Homo sapiens: one gene and its partners. The protein of the gene in region 3 interacts with the protein of the main gene of each other region in a pairwise test. Each region holds a gene or a part of one and is shown on either strand. Other genes may lie near its edges.

Region 1 (7,025 bases), on a different chromosome or scaffold from region 3:
AACACACACACACACACACACACACACACACAAGGGCTTCGGTGTGGAAACAGAGCACACAGAAGGAAAACAGCAGAATAGTTAGAAATGTCATCTAGCCCAGCAACCCCACGGTGGCAGCTCCAGAATCAAAACAGTCTGCAAACAAGGCCACATTCAGTCCCCCATCTCTGGTGTCTCCCTGCTACCAGGGCCTGGCACTGTTCATTCTCCCAGCACTTCTTGCCACACAGCTGCCCAATTGTGGGGGCTGCCGCAACCTGCCTGACACCCAAGGGCAGAGATCTTTGGAGGTAATAATGGTGTTTTTCCATCCTCCTCCTCTTACACACACACCTGTCCCACCTGTCTCCCAGCACAGCCCTCCACAGAAGGAATTCCCATCTCCTAGACAGGAGGAGGCATCCCCTACCCCAAGGAAAAGGCCGCAGAGACAAGGTCCCTTGTGTCCAGGTTTATTTTACATTCTCTTCCAGAGGGGATGTGGGGCTGGGGGAGAGCCAGCAGGCAGGCGGGCAGCACACAGCAGTCTCCCTGGGGAATATTTGAGCCAGGCTAGTGGTGCCTGGCCCCACAGTGCGGGGTGATATGCCAGGGCCAGGGCCAGGACTTGGCAGCCCCTGGGAAGAGGAGGCCTTGGGGCCAGAGCTCTTGCCAGGCCTAGATCGCTAAGAAGGTGCTGCGTCTGTCCCCCGCCTTGCTCCGCCCCCCCACACCCAGCTGGAGGCCAGAAGGCAAAGAGGGCAGCCAGCAAGCTGGGGTGCTGGGAGGAACCCCAGCAGGCGGGGGCGGCCTTTGGTCTCTACGAGGCTAGGAAGCTGGTTCTGGTTAGAGGAACCCCGTGGGGGCAAAGCGGAGAGCTGGTCCCTGTTAGAGGAAACGCTGGAGCAGGATGGGGGTGGGGGACTTGGGGTCTGGTCTCAATAAGGCCTGGAAATGGTCTCCGCTTCAAAGCAGACCTCTGTATTTGGGGAGTGGGGTGGGGAGGAAATGAAAGGGCTGTGGGAGGAATGCCTGTGAGTCGTGGGTGGGAATCAGTCCAGGGGGCTTCGAGGGGGGTCCGAGGGAAAGGCTGCGGGGGTCGTCTGCAGATGCTGGGAGCTCAGGTCCTGGGGAAGGAGGATGTGGGCGGGGGTCCTCTCCCTCCCACGAGTGCCACCGCTCCCCACCCCATCCTGGCTGGCTCCAAGTTGCCATGGAGACCACTCACACCGGGGCAACGTAATTTCCAGGGAACGTTCCGAATTTCTGGGTCCTCCGGGAGACACCTGAAAGAGGAAAGGCAGGAAGAGCTTTCCCCACTCCCTTCTTTAACAGGGATGCAGGGGTGAGGGCCTGCCCCCTGCCGGCAGTGCCCAGAACTGTAGGGGAGTTCTGTAGGGGAGCCCAGAGAGGGAATTGGATTTGCTCTCCTCCTTCCTGCCCCCTAGCGGCAGAAGCTTAGATGGGCAAAGCTACACTTCCCACACTCAACCACCAAAGAATCTGAGCAATCAACAAATGTGCATCACACTGTACACAGCAGAGTCACTCCCCCCCTCCTCCGCAAAGTGGGGACACAGGAGGAGGAATCACAGAACTGAAATCGGGAGAAACGTCCCTGGTCTAATAGGGCACCCTCACTTAGAGATGGGTGGGAAGGCCTATGGGAAGGCTGAATGCATTGCCCGAGAGCACCCCGACGCTTAGGAGTAAGCTTGGGACTCCGATCCAGGCCTCTCAGCCCCACAGAAACTCGTGTCTTGAAGAGGAGGAGGGGGGGGAACCCCAGCGGGCAAAGCATCTGGGGGGCCTGGCACCCGATGCTTCCCCAAAGCCAGCACTTCTGTTGGCTGCTTTCCTTCGTGCCATGAAGAGAAGGACGCCCTGGAGGAAACTGGCACCACCCCAGGGTCACTGATGGAGTCACTGGGGACCCAGGCCGGGGTTGCCGACCTTCAGAGCCCTGCCCCTTTTCCCTGCACACCCCTGCCTCTGGAGCAGCCCTTGGGGAGAGCGCCTGGTGGAAAGGACCAGGGCTCACACCTGTGTATCCCCACACCCCCCAGCTGGTTCCTCCAGCCTGGGAGGAAGAGGGAATGGAGAAATATAGAAATACAGAAATGTAATAAATATTATTATATTCCTATATATAGAAAAATAGGAATATAAACTGAAATGAACGTCACTCCTGACCTTGGGTGAATGGATGATCCTGGGCCTCCCCTTCCAGGCTGGCACCCTGACTTCCTTGGGGGCAGCCCGTGCTCGTCCCACCCCCACCCTCGTCCTCTGCCCCGAGTACCTCCCTTTCCTCTTGGCCTCCCCAAATCCTTCCCCTGCCCTTCCAGGCCCAGCTCCCTCATTTCCTCCAGGAAGCCTTCCCTGACCTGCACTAACTAAAATGGGCACCACTCGCCACCTGTGGCTGTTGGGCACTTGAGATGTGCCTGTGCAACTGAGGAACTGGATTTTTAATTTATTTCATTTGAGCTACATTTCAACAGCTGAATGCCGCCGGTGGCTGCCATACCGGAAAGGGCACAGGTCTCGCCCATTCCTCTCAAAGCGCTTGTGGCTCCTAATACAAAAGTGGTACTTTTTCTTCTTGTCTGCATAGGTTTGCAAAACTTTATTAGTAGTTGTAAAAAAATTCCAAAGCAAAAGTGTATCCAGTAAATTTGAATGCATCTCCAAGCACCGCCTCCCTCCCTCCCCCACTAGAAGGTAGGGGCCATTCACAGGCTAGTGCTTAATGGTCCTGGGTGGGTCAGTACAGCTGGCTGGCAGCTGTACTGGGATCAGATCAGGAAGGGTGGGCTGCCAGGTCAAGGGGCTGCCCAAGCAGCCCCCCAACTCCTCAGGCTTCAAAGCCTGCTTGGGGCAGGGCAGGGGGCTTCTGGCCACTCTCTTCTCTCTGGGGACGGCCCATCCTTTGAAGATGAGACCTGCACAGGGCCCGCCCACTCTGGGGAAAGAGGCCATGTGAAGCCTGGTGGGTTGGTCACCTTGATTCAGGCTGAGGCCAACCTGAGGCTTCCTGCATTTGTCCTTGGTCAGAGCTGCCCTTGGGCCAGCCCTGAGGGGCTGGGACCTTTCTCCATTCCCTCTTCCTCCCAGGCTGGAGGAGCCAGCTAGGTCAAGTGTGAGCCCTGGTCCTTTCCACCAGGAGCTCTCCCCCAGGGCTGCTCGAGGCAGGGGTGTGCAGGAGGAAGAGGCAGAGCTCTGGACGTTGGGAACCCTGGCCTGGGTCCCCACTGACTCCATCAGTGACCCTGGACTGGTGCCAGTTTCCTCCTGGGCCTTGGCCTCTTCATGAAGGAAGGCAGCCAACAGAAGGGCTGGCTTTGGGGAAGCATCGGGTGCCAGGCCCCCCCAGTAGCCCGGCCGGAAGCTGAGTCGGGGGGTGGTCGGCCATGAATCTTTGCTGAAGCAGCACTGGCAGGCAACAGCACCCCACCCACATCCCCTGGGGCCCTGAGATGCCCCCTCCCGGCCTGCCCACATACCCACAAACCAGCCATCGTCACACTGCTGCATGACATCCACCCTGTCCCCCTCGCGCAGCTCCAGCTCGTCTTCGTTCTGGGGCCTGTACTGGTACATCGCCCGGTACCTGCGAGAAGCGTATCATGGCAACCAGAGAATGGGCCCAGAGGCTCTAACCCAAGTGTTGCCGCTTCCTGTGAATGCCCCAGGGTCCCTTCATGCTCTCACTAGCCCCTGATCCAGCTCCTCAGAGCAACTCAGCCTGTGCTCACCGTAGTCTTTCCCAGGCCTGCCTCCTGCCCTCTGGGCCCTAAGCACTGAACCCTCGCCTCCTCTGAGCACCTGGTGCCTTCCTGTCCATTCCACCAGTTCCACACTTCAATTATACATGCACCGACCTCAGGGCTAGAAACCCAATGAGGAGACCAAGGCCACAAGGCCACATAGCTGCCAGGAGGGATTGGGAACATCACAGACCAGCGCCTCCTCCCTGCCCCAAATCACCATAAGCTCTTCGAGGACAAGGGCTACCTGGTAGAAGTTTCCCAAATCCACAGGTGGGGACTTGGGGGAGGGTGGAATATGGGGCATTGCCTGCCAGTGACCCCCCCCACGTCTGATCAAGAGCCCTCAGATGGTACTCACGGGGTCCAGTGTATCTGAGAGGTGTTAGGAGAGGAGGTCCCCAGGTCCAGGGGATGGCTGGGACCTCGAGAGTGGGACAGAGCTGGACCAGGGGTGCCAAGATTCTGGGAGTTGACAGGAAGAAAGGGATGTCAGAGGGAGGAAGACGATGGGTACATGTAAGCCTGAGGGAGGAGGCCCAAAATGGGCGTTCCCAGTCCACCTGCCAGCACGCCTTACAAACGGCTTCATCTTAGCCTCCAAACCCCCAGGGCACAGGGACACCTGCTGTGACTATTTCATTTCACAGGGGCCAGAAAACTGAGGCCCAAGTAAGGTCAGTGCCTGGGTTTCTGGACGCCAGCATGGATGAACCAAGAACACCCAGGGTCAGGAGCCTGGGCCGGCTTTGGGATTCCATCTAGAGCTCCCTCGGCTAGAGCTCGGTAGGTTGAGGTCCCCCAGGCCAGGGTGGGGCTGCCATACTAGCTTCTGCCCTGTCACCCCACTCCTATGTCCCAGGGCTGTCTGGGAAGGAGTCCCAAGTGTGGACAAGTCACGGGGGTGGGGGATGAGGGGTGAGGAGGAGGTCGACTCTCTGGTGGAGGCAGGCTACCTCACCTGGGTCTGGGGTCTAGGCTCCTGGGTGGGGAAGGAGAAGCCAGTGCGACGGGGGGAGGTCTGTCCCCCCAAGTCGATGGGGTCAGCTGGGCTGCGCAGGGCTGAGGGGGAGCTGGGGTGACGGGCTGAGCGGGCGGCAGCGGTCAGGCGGGGAGACGTGGGGAGCTGGGGGCCGTCGTCACAGAGCCGGAGCCGGGGTTCACGAGACACCTGCACGTAGCTGGCAGGGAATATGCCTTGGCGCCCCGTGCCCGTGATGCGTCCCTCGTACCAGTTCTCGTTCACCTTGCGGATCAGGCAGATGTGCTCTCCCTGAGGGGGGAAAAGTCAGTGTCTGTGGGGCCTTCCTGGTGCCATGGACCCACGGGTGCCTTATCTGGGCTGTCTCATTCAACCCTAACACCTTGGACACACGAGGGGTCGGAATCGCAGGGGGCCAGCAGTTTACCCGAGTCACACGGTAAGAGCAGGAGCCAGGAGCCAAGCCCAGGCTGCCCAGGCAAGGCTGAGGCTGAGACTGGGTCCTGCCTCTTGGAAGCTCAACGGGTGTGCATCCCCCTTCGGCGTTCATAGCAAGGTCCCTCCCCAGAGCTCCGATCACAGGTGAGCCCGTGGCTAATAATACAGATCCAAACCCAGCTCCACCAGGCCAAGCTGTGTGGCCTCAGGCAGCCTGCTCTGTCTCTCTGAGCCTTGTTTTCTCCTATGTTAAGTGAAAATAACCATACTGTCACTATGAGGTGTGAACGAGATCAACAGTCCACTCCTTAGACACACTGGACAGGTGCTACCACTACTGCCCTGCCTGGGTCCTGTTCCTGCCTCACGCTGGGGGACCTTGTCATGAGCGTGTCAAAAACACACTCCCCAGGACAGGCAGGGAGTCCTGAAGGCCACAGGCTGGCTGACATTAGGTAGAACCACCCCCTGGGAGGGTGGCCTCCAGCCCTTGCCTTCCCCTGTCCTCTCCTGCCCCCATCTGTCTCCATCCAGCCACCTTCTTCCCCCTCTGTCCCTGGGGCCAGCTCTTCTGGGAGGCATTCACTATGGGCCGTCTTTCGCTTATTTTGGGAGCATGATCACTGCTCCCAAAATCAACCAAAGGCAGACCACTTCCCTGCTTTCTAGAACAGCATTTTTCAAACTTGTTTCACCACAATCTACAGTTAAAAATGTTTTAATAACAGCCCAGAATACATATATATGTGCATACACAGAACTGCCTACGGTATGATAAAGTGCTTTCTGCTCGCAACGCATGCTAACATTTCTGTCTATACCTTTAAAAATGCTGAGTATGATCCCCTGCAACCTGCAGTTGAAAAAATATATATGTAACTCTAGAAGTTTATGATGATCTTTTAAAAATGGACCAAAATTACTTGGGAGGCTGGGGCAGGGACAGGGGATCGCTTGAGCCCAGGAGTTCAAGGTCAGCCCGGGCAACATAGTGAGATGCTGTCTCAAAAAAAAGCAAAAAAAAGCCACTACACTAAAGGAAGCATAATGAAAGAGACTGGGGAAAACTTTGAAATCCTGGGTGAAGCTAGGTACATCGGACTCTTTTTTAAAGAAGTGTTTTTAGGCCAGGCGCGGTGGCTCACGCCTGTAATCCCAACACTTTAGGAGGCTGAGGCGGGTGGATTATGAGGTCAAGAGACTGAGACCATCCTGGCCAACATCGTGAAACCCTGTCTCTACTAAAAATACAAAAATTAGCTGGGTGTTGTGGCGCGTGCCTGTAGTCCCAGCTACTCGGGAAGCTGAGGCAGGAGAATTGCTTGAACCCGGGAGGCGGAGGTTGCAGTGAGCCGAGATGGCACCACTGCGCTACAGCCTGGCGATAGAGTGAGACTCTGTCTCAAAAAAAAAAAACTGTTTTTAGTGCACATATTTACCTACATCTTCACCTGCCCCCACCCACCCCTCCGTCTCCGGCCTGGCCCACCTTGCGGAAGGACAGCTCCACCTCCAGGTCCCCCTTGAAGGTGTACTGGGCCACAGCCTCTCCATACTCCAGCACCTGGTAGGTCGGGGGCTTGATGGGCTTAGGGATCTCATCTGCGGGCAGCACCTGCATGAAGAAAGGTCATGAGAAAGATTTGGCCTGGGCATCAACATAGCACAGGCTGGGGGTTCCTGTGAGACAGCAAAGAGAAGGTGGGCCCGCCCCTAGGCAGAGAAAAGATATAAACACCAGACACAAGCCCTGGGGGCAGCCACGGGTGGGCACAGCCAAAGGGTGCTGGAGGATGGGGAGGAGTCTGGGAACGCTCCCTGGAAGAAGAATTTTCCATAGGGATATATGGAGT
Region 2 (7,025 bases), on a different chromosome or scaffold from region 3:
CAGATCCCAGATAGATAGCTAGTCCCTTCCACCATGTGAGGACACAGCTAGAAGGCAACATCTAGAAAGTAGGCCCTTGCCAGACATCAAGGTGCCTTGATCTTGGACTTCCCAGCCTCTAGAACTCTGACTGTATTAGTCTGTTCTCCCATTGTATAAACAAATACCTGAGACTGGGTAATTCACAAAGAAAAGAGGTTTAATTGGCTCACCATTCTGCAGGCTGTACAAAAAGCATGATGCTGATATCTGCTTGGCCTCTGAGGAGGCCTCAGGAAACTTACAATCATGGCGGAAGGTGAAGGGAAGCAGGTGTCTTACATGGCAGAAGCAGGAACTCTTAAGAGAGAGAGTGGGAAGGTACTACACACAACCAGATCTTGTGAGAACTCACTCACTATCACGAGAGCAGGACCAAGAGGATGGTACTAAACCATTCAGGCGAACCCACCCCCATGATCCAATCACCTCCCATCAGGGCCTGCCCCCAACATTGGGAATTACAATTGAACATGACATTTGGGTGAGGACACAGATCTAAACCATATCAGTGAGAAATGAATTTCTGTTACATAAAAGCTATTCGGTTTATTGTATTTTGTTATAGCAGCCCAAATGGATTAGGACACTGAATGCCCAGCCTCCAGAACTATGAGAAAATACATTTCTGTTATTTAAGTAACCCATTCTGTGGTATTTTGTTATGGCATCCTAGGCTGACCACAATAAACAACACACTCACTAATTCATCAGGCTTCTGCTGAAGGCCTACTATGGGCAAAGCACTGAGTTTAGCACTGTGGGCAGACACAAAAGCAAGTGGGAATACAACAGCTCACAATATGGTCAGGGAGAATGACAACACAAATATATCTGTCATAGAGCAGAATGCAAATATTTTGGTATAATGCTTCTATAACTCTTGTTTCAACAATGCAAATTTGTTCCAATGTGATTGACATATTAAGGAACAATCTGAGCATAATGTGAATGTTGTGTTTGCTTATCTGTAAGAAAAACTAGATGAACATAGAAAGGTTGTGCCTAGCTGAACCGGGCCACACGGAAATACACAAAATTCACATACCTCAGACATCAGTCAGCTCTCTCGGCCCACGGTGTGTTATTAGCCACACTCATCCACATTTGGAGTTAAAACTCTCCGTCTGATTTCACATGACTGTCCTCCTACCATTTCGCAATAACATACAAATGACCACACCTTCTGAGACCACCTCTTAAGCAAACTTTAGGTCATTTTCAAACTCAACTGCCATATGTGTGGTAAGATGTATACATTTCTTAACCACTTAATGTTAAAGCTGTGCTACCATTTATAATAGGTTTTTATTTTTGCTTTTATCTGACAAATTATTGAGTGTTGTTCTTCTAAACCACTTTTTCTCGATAAGCCCTATAGTTTTGAATTGCATGATTGTGTATACTGCAGTGATTTTTAGAAACATGTATGAGTAGAATTGACTATATTTAAACATTTCAATAAGGAACTAGATTTCAGGTAACTAAGGCCTGGGTAATGAATGTTTATGGTCAGGATCACAGAAAATCACATGCTTATTGGATAAACTTCAAACAGGGCATATGGATCTGGCTAATATATCAACGACAACCTCTAGTGGTAATGTATACTAATTGCAGGTAAAATACAGAAAAATGTGATGTAGTAAAAATGGATTTTTAAATGTTATCGAATGAATGAAGCTATCACACAGGCCAACTCACATATATTCCCTCACCTTTAGGCAGCTTTTTATGGCCTCCAGTTTCCTGGCCTGTTTACTAAAATAATTTTTTTTTTTTTTTTTTTTTGAGACAGAGTCTCACTCTGTCACCCAGGCTGGAGTGTAGTGGCACAATCTTGGCTCACTGCAAGCTCTGCCTCCCAGGTTCATGCCATTCTCCCACCTCAGCCTCCGGAGTAGCTGGGACCACAGGCGCCCACCACCACGCCTGGCAAATTTTTTGTTTTTGTATTTTTTGTAGAGACGGGGTTTCACCATGTTAGCCAGGATGGTCTTGATCTCCTGACCTCGTGATCCACCCGCCTCAGCCTCCCAAAGTACTGGGATTACAGGCGTGAGCCACCATGCCCAGCCAAGAATGTTTTCTAGAGTCAAACAGCCTCATAAAGGGAGCTCCACTGACCTGTCATTGAGTTTTCTGAGGTGCACAGTTGCTCTCTCAGCTTCTCCACGTCATCAGGATGCACCTGTTCATACAGTGTGCTCCCAAACCACTCTGACTGGGGCTGGTTCAGAACAGGGGTGACGGAGTCAGACACATAAATCACTCGCCCTGTCTCAGCAGCCACCACAAACAGAAATCCATCAGCTGCTTCAAGGATGAGATGCTTCAGTTCCTATAAAGAAAAGATTATGATTGGCACAATACACTGACAGACCCAGGATGATTCAACTTTCTTATTGGGAAAGCAGCCTTCAATTTCCTTTATCTGCATATTTATTCTGGTACACAAATAGTTTGGGAAATGAGAACTTTGTTTCTGGAAAATAAGCTAGAAAAATGCACAAAGCTTGCACCATCCCTACGATACAGCTACTGTAAACACGGTTAGCCCATCTTCATTAGTCCTTTGTTGGGGAGAGAAAATTTCCAGCCTAGGGGGATGGGAGAGCAATGAGTGATCACCAGAAGGTACTGGGTTGCCAGAGGCGTGAACAGCTTTGCCACATATTGAAACTGTAGTCATGTCATTGGAGCAGAAGGGCCCAACACATAGTGCTTGGCACAAAAGGTGCTAGATAGAAGGAAGGGAAGGGGAAGGGGAAGGTGAGAAGGGAGAACGAAAGAGACCACGTGTCTCCCCACCCACAGCTTGCCGTACTGAAAGTACCCTCTTGTTCCTTTTCTCTTTCCATATTTCTGAGCTGAATGCTGGCACTGGCTATAAGAGTATCCCCTTACATTTGCATTTCTGTCAGATTTCCAGAACTGACAATAATCACCATCATCTCAAAAGACTCTCAGAGTAACTCTGGGAGGCAGCAGGGAATACAGCATTATCCATATCACTTTACAGTGAGAAGAGGATAGGAGCATCAACCTTCAGCTCACATTGATTCATTGGGGTCATGACTGTCATTGAAGGCAGGGAGGAAACTGGGATCAAGGAAGGGGCAGCAGGAAGCCTTGATATTATCCTCAGAAGGACGTGGATGGGGCAAAATTAACTTTGTTAAAACAAGATGTCTTTTCTTTGCAGCGCCTGAAGGCAGCTCAAGTATAGTTGCCCATACTATTCTCACATCAAGCTAAGGAGCCCTTTGCCACTGAATGAAATGGGCTTTGTGCCTGCAGGAGCCAGGCACTAAGTCTTCCCTAGACACTGTAATCCATGGCCACCCTTCCAACCACTTCAAGTACTGTTCAGGCTCCAGAGGACAAAGGTATCCTTCTAGGTCAGCAGCTAGCAAACATCTTTTGGCTGGCAATCTTTTGTTTGAATGTAATCTTATGTGAAAACCCCACTGTAAAGCACATGGACAGCCAGCAGAGTGAAGGCAAAAGGTGGAGAGTCTGGCGCCCCAAATCCCAGTAACTGAGCAGGGTACAAGGACCCAGAGACTAGGGAACATTGATATGCTGATGAGCAGAACCCAGGGAGCTTTGTAAATGTGTCTAAGCCCTTGGCTGGGGAGGAATTCTAACATCCTCTGCCTGGGAAACCAGGGCAGAAGCAGTTGGTACAAGCATTTTTTAAGGATAAGTTTATTTTGCCCATTTCTCTTGCTTTGCACTTTTGCTGTTCTGCGTCACCTAGATGCTTAATTAGTTCAGGGAATTCGGTCAGCATTTTTATTTTCAGTTTTTGGATGATCTTCCCAACAGAAAGAGCTGTTAAGAGAATTAAAAACGGAAGAGGGTGCCTGGGGAAGTACAGAATTCTTTGTCACTGGAGGAGAGGAAGTGGAGACTGAATGACTTTACTCATGAATTCACATTTTTGTCCAGTTTGCAAAGACTGTGGGGAGGTCTTATGGGATGAAGCCCTGCTCGCATCACGGACCCTCTTTTTTCCACCCTCCTCCCTGATGTGTATTCCCTGGGAGACCATCTATCACTACCAAGTTCCTGTGCCCTGATCCAGAACCAGCCTCTACACTCCAAGAAAACAGTCACGGTTAAGAGCATGTATTCTGGAGTAAAAGGAGACTATCACCTACCGCTCTCCCACTTAGCTGTGCAACTTTGGGCATGTTACTTCACGCCCTCAGCAATGTTTTTCAGTGAGCTCTTGCAAGGTTAAATGAGATGCTGTGTGTGAGGACTTAGTAAGGGCCTGGCACACAGTAGGTGCTCCATAAATGTAACCATTATCATCACCATCCAAGCAGCTGAGAGAGGAACAAAGGTAGGGCTCATCTGACCTGCATAGCTGCCTTCTCTCTTCACGCCACTTTCATAATCCTCAGTCACTTAAAGATAACGAGATTCATTTCAAACCTTGACTCTGTAGGTCTTTTGGTGAGGATTAAAAAAATATAGACAAAAAACTGATTCTAGCAGCCAGTAGTGCTCAATAATTTCTGTCTGTTACTTACCAGCTATTTACCCTTCATTATACCTCAGGCCCATGTTAAACAGTCTATGCTTGTTGCCTTCCTCACCACAACCACACGAGCTGGGAGCTATCACTGCATTTATTTTTACAGAGGTGGAAATGAGGCTTGAAGCTCCTGCCCTGACCACCACAGTTTGTGTCCTCCAAGTGGCACATATTACCACTGCTGGACCTTCCTAACATCTGCCAAGCGAGGGCTCCCATGACCACTGGGATGATTTAGAAAGGGATCAAATAGGTGAAGTGCTTGCTAAAGTGTCTGCCACAGAACAGACAGTAATAAACGTTAGTTCCTCATCCCTTATTCTTTTTAAACCTAACTTCCATGACATAAATCGAGTCTCGGCTCTAGCAGAATAAATCATTAGGTCTCCCAACAAAATCTTTTTCATTCCTGCCTGTGAGGTTCTGTACACACTCTTCCCTTTTTGTGAAATCCCTTCTGCTCCCCTCTTTCTAGGTATTTTTTGTGGCTCCTTTCTATGCCAATACTGTCTCTGTCCTGAGAAGTCCCTCTTGATAATACCAGGACACTTCCACTCTATTTCAGCTTGGCCACACGCTGTGTCTTGTTAAATCCTCCATTACTTTTAGGACCCTATACCCTACATACTTTTGCATTTCCTAACTGCATGCCCTGACAACTGTATTATTTCACCTCCCCACCCCAATGCCCCCCCACCGGCTATACACAATGAAGTGCTTTCAAATCCATCACCTCATTTATCCTGCAAAAGCTCTTGGAGACAGGAAAGCAAAAAGCTTTATGTTCATTTCACAGATGAGCACACTGAAGCTTAGAGTATTTGCCAACTTGCCCTATGACCAGCACATGGAAATACAAAGACCCTGAACACAGGCCTCTGGCTCATGTAAAGCCACTTATAAAATACGACCTCACTAGCCATTTTGTGCGTTTCTTCTTGCCAACTAGTCAAAGACTAGTGTAGGTGTTAAAAATATGGCTTTGGGGTCCTACCAGCCTGTCTTCACTGGACCCAATCTTGGCTCCTCCACTAAGCAGCAGATTAACCCTGAGCAATCTGCTGACTCTAAGCCTCAGCTTCCTCATCAATAAAACAGAGCTAAATAACAGTGGCTTCTTCACAGGGCTAGAATAAGTAGTAAATGAGATATTTCACAGAAAACTATGACTCACACCAGGCACCCAGCAAATGCCGGCCGGCTAAGTGCTCTGATCGCGGCTACTATTATCACTACTGCTGCCATCACTGTCTTTTTTCTTTAACTTTTTTCAGGGGTACACATGCAGGTTTGTTACGTACTGCCAAGGGAGTAAACTCATGTCACGAAAATTTGTTATACAAATTATTTCATCACCCAGATCCTAAGCCCAGTACCCATTAGTTATTTTTTCTGATCCTCTCCCTCCTCCCAACCTCCATCCTCTAGGAGGCTCCAATGTCTGTTGTTCCCCTCTTTGTGTCCATGTGTTCTCATCATTCAGCCCCCACTTACAAGTGGGAACATGTGGTATTTGGTTTTCTGTTCCTGCATTAGTTTGCTAAGGATAGTGGCCTCCAGCTCCATCCATGTTCCTGCAAAGGACATGATCTCATTCTTTTATATGGCTGTGTAGTATTCTATGGTGTATATGTACCACATTATCTTTATCCAATCTGTCATTGATGAACATTTATGTTGAGTCCATGTCTTTGCTATTGTGAATAGTGCTGCAATGAACATACGTAAGCATATGTCTTTATGTAGAACGATTTATATTCCCTTGGGTATAAACCCAGTAATGGGGTTGCTGGGTCAAATGGTATTTCCGTTTTTAGCTCTTTGAGGAACCTCCACACTGCTTTCTACAATGGTTGAGCTAGTTTACACTCCCACCAGCAGTGTATAAGTGTTCCCTTTTCTCTGCAACCTCACTAGCATCTGTTACTTTTTGACTTTTTAGTAATAGCCATTCTGACTGGAGTGAGATGGTATCTCATAGTGGTTTTGATTTGCACTTCTCTAATGATCAGTGATGTGGAGATTTTTTCATATACCATCACTTTCATAGGCTGATCATATCAGCACAATTCCAGCATACAGCGTTTTTACTAACTTCTTCCTGTGTCAGTGTGCTGAGCACGATGTTCAAATGCTCAATATATTTTTTTGAGTGACATCCCATTAAGGTTATGGGAAACATAAAAGCAGAAGACCCAAAGATCAGACAAACCCTCTTTTGAAGACAGCTTCTTGGAGAAAAATGGAAACAAAACATGTTGGCTTCATTCCTTCCTCAACCTTGAGCCCTGGTTCCCCACGTAGTTTATTTCGTCTTGGTGACGCTGGGATTCCCCCCGCTTTCCAATGGTGATGTGATGACCAGGGTACCTGCTCTGTGAGGAAGGAAGGCTTGTACGCGCCATCGGTGGACTTGTTCCCTGTACCCCTCATGGAC
Region 3 (7,025 bases):
TGTGCTTACAAGCGAAATGTAAGTTTCTGGCTGCCTACTAACATGTAGCTACACAAACCTGGAAGTCTTCCTGCCAAACATGCAGAAGAGTCTTCGCATCAAAGAGATAGTGAGGCCTGGAGGGGGACGCCTGGAGTGCCTGCCGTTGGGGACACAGGCCTGGTCACAGCCCTGGGGGCGGAGGAAGCAGGGCTTCCCGAGAGGCAGACTGCACCCAGGTATCTGCGCTGGGGCAGCTTCTCATTGAGTGGATGCACCCCAGGAGGAGCAGGGACTAGAACTCCTTTATTCAGTGATTGAAACTGTGAGAGGCAAATCAATCTTGGGGCCCCCAAATCACTAAGTTAAAGGAAAAGTCAAGCAGGGAACTGCCTAGGGCAAAGCTGCCTCCCGTCCTACTCAAAGTCTTCCCTCTGCCCACTGAGATAAATGCACACCTGATTGCCTCCTTTGGAAAGGCTTATAAGAAACTCGAAAGAATGCAACCGTTTGTCTCTCACCTGTCTGAGACCTGGAAACACCCCTCCCTGCTGGAGTTGTCCCGCCTCTGGACGGAACCAATGTCCATCTTACATATAGTGATTGATGTCTCAAGTCTCCCTAACGTATACAGCCAGGCTGTGCCCCGACCACCATGTGTACATGTTATCAGGACCTCCTGAGGCTGTGTCATGGTTGTGCGTCTTCAACCTTGGCAATTAAACTTCCTAAATTAGCCTGGCGTGGTGGCTCACGCCTGTAATCCCAGCACTTTGGGAGGCCGAGGTGGGCGGATCACGAGATCAGGAGATCGAGACCATCCTGGCTAACACGGTGAAACCCCGTCTCTACTAAAAATACAAAAAATAATTAGCCGGGTGTGGTGGTGGGCACCTGTAGTCCCAGCTACTCGGGAGGCTGGGGCAGGAGAATGGCTTGAACCTGGGAGGCGGAGCTTGCAGTGAGCTGAGATCGCGCCACTGCACTCCAGCCTGGGCGACAGAGGGAGACTTCATTAAAAACAAACAACAAATAAACAAACAAAACTTCCTAAATTAACTGAGACCCATCTCAAATATTCAGGGTTCACAAACCTTTTCTCTAGGGTGGCCATGATGGGGCAGGAAGCCAGATGGGGAAAAAATACCCCAGGAGTGAAAGGGCGTGGAGAAGTGTGGGTTTGGGGTGAGCTGTTTTCCTTCTGCATTTCCAATAACCTGCATGACCTTAGGTGAGTTAATTTACCCAACTTGGGGGCTCATGGTTAAGGATGAAACTCACCTGTAGCAAAAGCATTAAAAAAAAAAAAAAGAAAAGAAAAAAGAAAGTCACCCTATTAGCTGACCCAGAAAGATTGTTCTAGGCCAGGCTCAGAATAGAGGAAAGGGCTGAAGGGAGACCACAAGGACTGGGGGACCTGTGCCAGAGGCACGGGGCAGGGCGTGGGGCTCAGGGGCCAGGTGTTACCCCCTCCTTAGAGGCTGGGGCACTATGGGGAGGCCCAGTTGGGGGCCATGTGACAGGGCGGTCTGCTGCTTGCACGGGACAGGGGGTCCTCGGGTGAGCCCAGCTCTGCTGCTCACCCCCACTCATGTGGGGTGGACAAGTCCTTTCCCTATCTGAGCCTCAGTTTCCCCCTCTGGAAGAAGAGGAAGACAGACCAGATGCACTCTGAAGCCCCTGTACCTCTGGCTCACGGGCTCACTGTGGGGGGCCTGTGAAATCCCCCAAATCACTAAGCTAAAGGGAAAAGTCAAGCTGAGAACTGCTGAGGGCCACCCTGCCTCCCATTCCATTCCAAGTCACCCCTCTGCTCCCTGAGATAGATGCGTATCTGATCGCCTCATTTGGAGAGGCTCATCAGAACCTCAAAAGAATGCAACTGTTTATCTCTCACCTACCTGCGACCTGGAAGCCCCCTCCCCACTTCCTGCCTTTGCTTCAAGCTGGCCCAGCTTTCCAGACCGAACCAATGTACTTCTTACAAATATTGATTGATGTCTCATGTCTCCCTAAAATGTATAAAACCAAGCTGTGCCGGATCACCTTGGGCACATGTCATTAGGACTTCCTGAGGCTGTCACGGGCGCGTCCTCAACCTTGGAAAAATAAACTTTCTAAATTAACTGAGACCTGTCTCAGATTTTCTGGGTTCACAGGCCCAACCTTCCGTGTCCCCCAAGGCGTTCCGGGGCGGCCTCACCTTCGCTTCTTCTGCATCCAGTCCTTGACCTCCAGGTCCGGGAGCCCCATCCACTGGCCTTGGCTCAGGATCACCATGGAGCCTTCGATGGACTGCAGGGAAAGGAACCCTTTGGTCCAGGCCTCTGCTCGCCTGAACCCATTTGGGGCTAGAGGGCATGGGAGGCCTTTGCTGGGGCTGGGTAGAGGGAGGAGGGAGAGGCAGGGTTGCGGGGTGGAGAATGAGGAAAGGGAGATGCCAGAGTCCCAGCCCCAAGTGGGGAGAACGAGGGAGAGAGCCCCCCACAAGCCATGCCCTCGCTGCCCCACTCACGTGCCAGGCTCCCCCGGGGAGGTTCCGGCCCAGAACCACGTGGGGGATGGCGTGCTCCTTCCGGTGCTTCCAGGTGAGGACCGACTTCATGTTTCCCCCAAAGTCTGTGTCTGGGCGTAGAAGGGCATCAAAGAGCAGGGCCACGGGGCTTTGGGATCGGCCTTCGAGGCCTTCGGACAGGTAGTCCAGGTCCTGGAGGGGGGCATAGGTCAGAGGGGCTGCTGGAGGAGGGCGGGGTCGTCTTCCCAGAGCCTGAGGCTGGGCAGGAACGTGGGGACTGGGGCCGGGCCATTTCCCTGGCACTGGAGGGTCTCAGAGAGATGCGCACCCTGGGGGTAGTTTGAAGCTCTCGTTTTGAGGTCTTTCTAGGAGGCCAAGGGCCCCAGAGTACAGACCAAATGCGCAAGCTTGGGTGAGACTGGAGCGATTGCCTGGTCCTACATCCCTACCCTAATATCAGTGTGGTCAGATCAGCTTGGGAGGTGCTGCCTCTTAACAGCAGATAACACAGACGGGCATATTAAAGGCTCTGACAAGTCCTGCAGCCATCATTTACCTGTTTAATTTTGCCAAACCCAGTGTGTCCCTGTTTTACTGGAGTGGGGACATTTTTCTCTCTATATTATACTGAGGAACTAGTATTCTATAGAGAGCACTTTGAAAAATGCTGATCTAGATCAAATGGTCAAGACCTATTTCCTCATCTCCAACTCAGGGGCGGGAAGGGAACAGGAGGATGTACACTGCCTGACGAGGGAGGTCGACAAGGGGAGGTCGTGGAGGAGCACAGTGGAAGACAAGGGGTACGGAGGGAGGATTTGCAAACCCTTGTGGGCAGGAGGTAGTGGGACTGAAATATCTGTGGTGGAGTTTCTCAACCTTGGCCGCACTGACATTTGAGCCAGATCATTCTTTGTAGCCAGAACAAAGTCATCCAAATGTCAGTGGGGCCAAGGTTGAGAAGCTCCACCACACATATTTCAGTCTCACCACCCTCGTTGTCCTGTGCAGTGCTGGATGTTTGCCAGCATCCCTGGCCTCCACCCTGCTAGATTTGGTAGTACCGTCACCCTGCCATGACAACCCAAATTGTCTCCAGACATTGCCAGGTGCCCCCCGAGGAGAAAAATCATCCCCTCCTTGAGAACAACCGGCCTAGGGCATAGTGAGCCCTAGATCGTGTGGCATTTGTGGGTCTCTGATTTCTCTTTCACGATCTCCGTGGCTGACTTTGTGGACTCTCGAATTCTTTGTTTAGTCTTGTTTCCAGCAAACACACACTTTTGTTTTTCCCTGGGAAAGCGGCGGTAGTTTTCCAAGGGCGGGTATGTACTACCCAGAGCTCTGGCCCCAGGCTGACCCACCTGGTCCAGGATGGAGACCCCCGGGGCCTCGGTGAGCTTCCTCTGCAGCAGGGGGTGTGGGTGGATGGCATCTGGCTTCGTGTAGGGTGTGTAGCCGGAGAGCAGGTAGGACAGGCAGATACCAGAGGGGCCGTTACCTGGGGAGAGAGGGTGGAGGTTAAAGGGGGTGGCCTTTTCAGGTGGGGGACACTACTGTGGAGGGCTTTGATCTAGATGCGGCGCATTCATTCATTTATCCTTCATTCATAAAAATAAATATTTATTAAGCCCTTAGCCTGTGCCAGACACTGTGCCTAATAATACTTTTAAAAAGAAGGAATGAACAACTGCTGAGAGCTTACTCTGTGCCAGGAATTGTACTGAGAGCTTTCACAACAGCCTCACAACAGCTTTAGCGAGGTAAGTGCCACTCTTTTCCTCCTTTTATACTTGAGGAAATGGGCACAGAGAGGTTAAGTTACTTGCCTGTGGTCACACGGCCGGAAGGTAGACGAGCCGGGATTAAAACCCAGACAGAGGGAATATCTGACGACGCGACTGAGATTCTGAGATTGCTAAGAACTAGGTCAGATGGATGAGTGAATGTAGCACAGATTGCTACGTGGCCTGGGGGCGAACTTGAGTGGTGGGTGCTTGTGGGCGCTCAGGGGTGCTGAGCCGCCTGTTGGGTCTGCTGCTTGCACGTCTGAAGAACTGCGCTGCCATCTGTGGCGCTTCCTGGGCGATTCACCAGGCACAGCCCTGTGATAGCGCTTCTCTTTTTATCTGTCCTTTCCCCTCTTCTTATCTCGTCTGATTCGGAATATTACTCATATGCAGGATACCAGGAAGAACCATATGAAATCACAGGCACCCATCTGCTTTTGCCTTACAGAAATGACCATCTCACGTGGCTTAATCGGACGCCTGCATACTGGGGGGTCATCTGTCCCCATTTGTGCAGACAGAGGACAGGAATCATAAGCCGCTACTGTGTGTCCTCTCATGTGGGCACCTAGCACAGTGCTGGGCACAGGGTAGTCATGGGATCAGTGTGGGCTCAGGACCAGGCCTCCCTGCGCCACGCCGGGTCGCCTCCAGCTGATGGGTGTGTTCTAGACCCCTGGGTTCTCGGAAGTGTGAAAGGGAATGATAGCTTATAAACTGCTAAGCCTAGCACTGGCCACATAGTAAACGCTCAATGGCTTAATTTAAAGACCACTGTAAAGAGGCCAGGCCTGGGCCAGGCATGGTGGTTCACACCTATAATCCCAGCACTTTGGGAGGCTGAGGCAGGCAGATCACTTGAGGTCAGGAGTTCGAGACCAGCCTGGCCGACATGGCGAAACCCCATCTCTACTAAAAATACAAAAGTTAGCTGGGCATGGTGGCATGCACCTGTAATCCCAGCTACTTGGTAGGCTGAAGCAGGAGAATCGCTTGAGCCCGGGAGGGAGAGGTTGCAGTGAACCAAGATTGCACTACTGCACTCCAGCCTGGGCGACAGAGTGAGACTTTGTCTCAAATAAATAAATAAATAAATAAATAAATAAATAAAAAATAAACCCCAAAAACGAAAAAAGACACCAGGCCTGGACTTGCCCAGCTCCTGCCCTCAGACCTGGGGGGTACCCGGAAGGCTCAGCGGAGCCCCTCCCTGGCTGGGGCCTGACACTCACCCACAATGATGACCGGGAGGGGCTCTGAGCTGCTGGCGCCGAGGTGGTCCTTTCTGGAGGAGCTCATGGCTGGTGGGGGGCTTGGGGCTGGCAGCGGACCTGGAGTGGGGGAGAGGGGAAGGAAGAGTCCATTCGGGTGAGGCCTGGGTGTCCACACAGCCACTTCACCTCCCAGCTAGGGTGGCCTCCTGTGGCCCTCAGGGTCTGGTCCGGGGTCCCCATGAGACATATCTGACGGGACTCCCTTCTTGCTCTCACACAGCCTCTGCTCCAAACAGGCTGTTTGCCCCACCCCTCCCCAGTCATGCAGAATGTGCCCTCCCCTCCTCGGGCCTGGTTGCCCCAGGCAGCCACTGTCCCTCCGAGCCTCACTCTACTCTCCCATCTCACTGGGGCAGTAACAGTCCCCGAAACTCATTATCTGTCTTCCCGAGAGGCCATTCCTGCCCAACCCAGGAACCAGCCCTGCCAGACCCTTCTGTGGGCCACAGTCCTCGAGTCCCAGTGTGGCCTGGTGGACTCGTCATCCAGCCCTGGCACGTTGCTTCCTATCCCATTCCCGGGCCTCTCTGGGTCTCAGTTTCCTCATCTGTAAAATGGAAGCAATGAGTCCCTACCTCCTAGGGTGGTTGAGGGACACAGTAGGATCACAGACGGGAAGCACCTGCCTGGAGTGAATCTGCCACAGGGAATGGGCCAGCGCTGTGGCCTGCCCCAGGAGCTGGGATGGACTTGGGGAAATGGAAGCAGTGGCCAGGTTTGGGGACGTGCTGGTGAACCTGCCATCTCTGGGGCAGCCGCGCCCTCTGCTGGCCGCAGGCCCAAATCGCTCAAAGGGACCCAAGTGCTGGTCCTAGAGCTGCCGGTTCCCAGAGGAGCATCAGACCTACCTTCTTCCCCACACCAGCTAGCAGCGGACACCAGCCTCACCCGAGGGCCACATGCTGCCATCCTGAGGACCACAAGGCAACACCCTTGTGGGCACAGGGATGATGAGCATTTGGCACTTACTGTGTACCGGGTATTTGACATGCTTTTTCTCATATCCGCCTCACGCTGACCCTGTGCAGCCCTGGCCATATTAATGTCCCATTTCACAGATGTGTAAACGGGGCTCAGAGAGGTCGCACAAACTTCTCAGTGTCACACAGCTGGCTTTGAAACCCAGGGCTCACTGGTGCCAAGACCCTGCCAGTGCCACCACCCACACCACTCGGCCTGTCCCTCGAGATCCAGGGCCCATCCAGGTGTCACACTCAAGTGGGCGGGCACAGGGCTTGGACCACCCAGAGTGGCCAGGGGTGGGGGCCCAGGGCCACCTGCCTCCAGAATTCTTCCAGAGAAAGTGGGAATCTGGATTTCTATGTGAATGATCTGAGTTGAAGAAGTGGGCAATGAATGAACGCAGAGTTTTGGAAGATGCTTAAAAGGCCAACCAAACACAGCTGAGACCAGTGTGTGGCCTCTGATGTGTGCAGGGTGACAGAAACACCTTCGTCCACCTCCAGG

Evidence for each region.
Region 1: the proteins of OSGIN1 (region 3) and SORBS3 interact in binary tests that used the Homo sapiens proteins (3 or more experiments, as listed by UniProt).
Region 2: the proteins of OSGIN1 (region 3) and ARNT2 interact in binary tests that used the Homo sapiens proteins (3 or more experiments, as listed by UniProt).

What each region holds. Positions count from the first base shown.
Region 1 is NC_000008.11:22,568,910-22,575,934, reverse strand, and holds the end of SORBS3 (vinexin), read right to left. Parts: intron 6,788-7,025; coding exon 6,662-6,787; intron 5,026-6,661; coding exon 4,714-5,025; intron 4,218-4,713; coding exon 4,114-4,217; intron 3,596-4,113; coding exon 3,489-3,595; intron 1,269-3,488; coding exon 1,207-1,268; 3' UTR 147-1,206; downstream 1-146. UniProt on the Homo sapiens protein: Vinexin alpha isoform promotes up-regulation of actin stress fiber formation. Vinexin beta isoform plays a role in cell spreading and enhances the activation of JNK/SAPK in response to EGF stimulation by using its third SH3 domain.
Region 2 is NC_000015.10:80,470,365-80,477,389, reverse strand, and holds part of ARNT2 (aryl hydrocarbon receptor nuclear translocator 2), read right to left. Parts: coding exon 6,959-7,025; intron 2,381-6,958; coding exon 2,167-2,380; intron 1-2,166. UniProt on the Homo sapiens protein: Transcription factor that plays a role in the development of the hypothalamo-pituitary axis, postnatal brain growth, and visual and renal function. Specifically recognizes the xenobiotic response element (XRE).
Region 3 is NC_000016.10:83,956,230-83,963,254, reverse strand, and holds part of OSGIN1 (oxidative stress-induced growth inhibitor 1), read right to left. Parts: intron 5,616-7,025; 5' UTR 5,584-5,615; coding exon 5,517-5,583; intron 3,996-5,516; coding exon 3,859-3,995; intron 2,687-3,858; coding exon 2,495-2,686; intron 2,275-2,494; coding exon 2,183-2,274; intron 1-2,182. UniProt on the Homo sapiens protein: Monooxygenase catalytic activity. Involved in regulation of cytokinesis; promotes RHOA activity, probably acting locally at the midbody in late cytokinesis.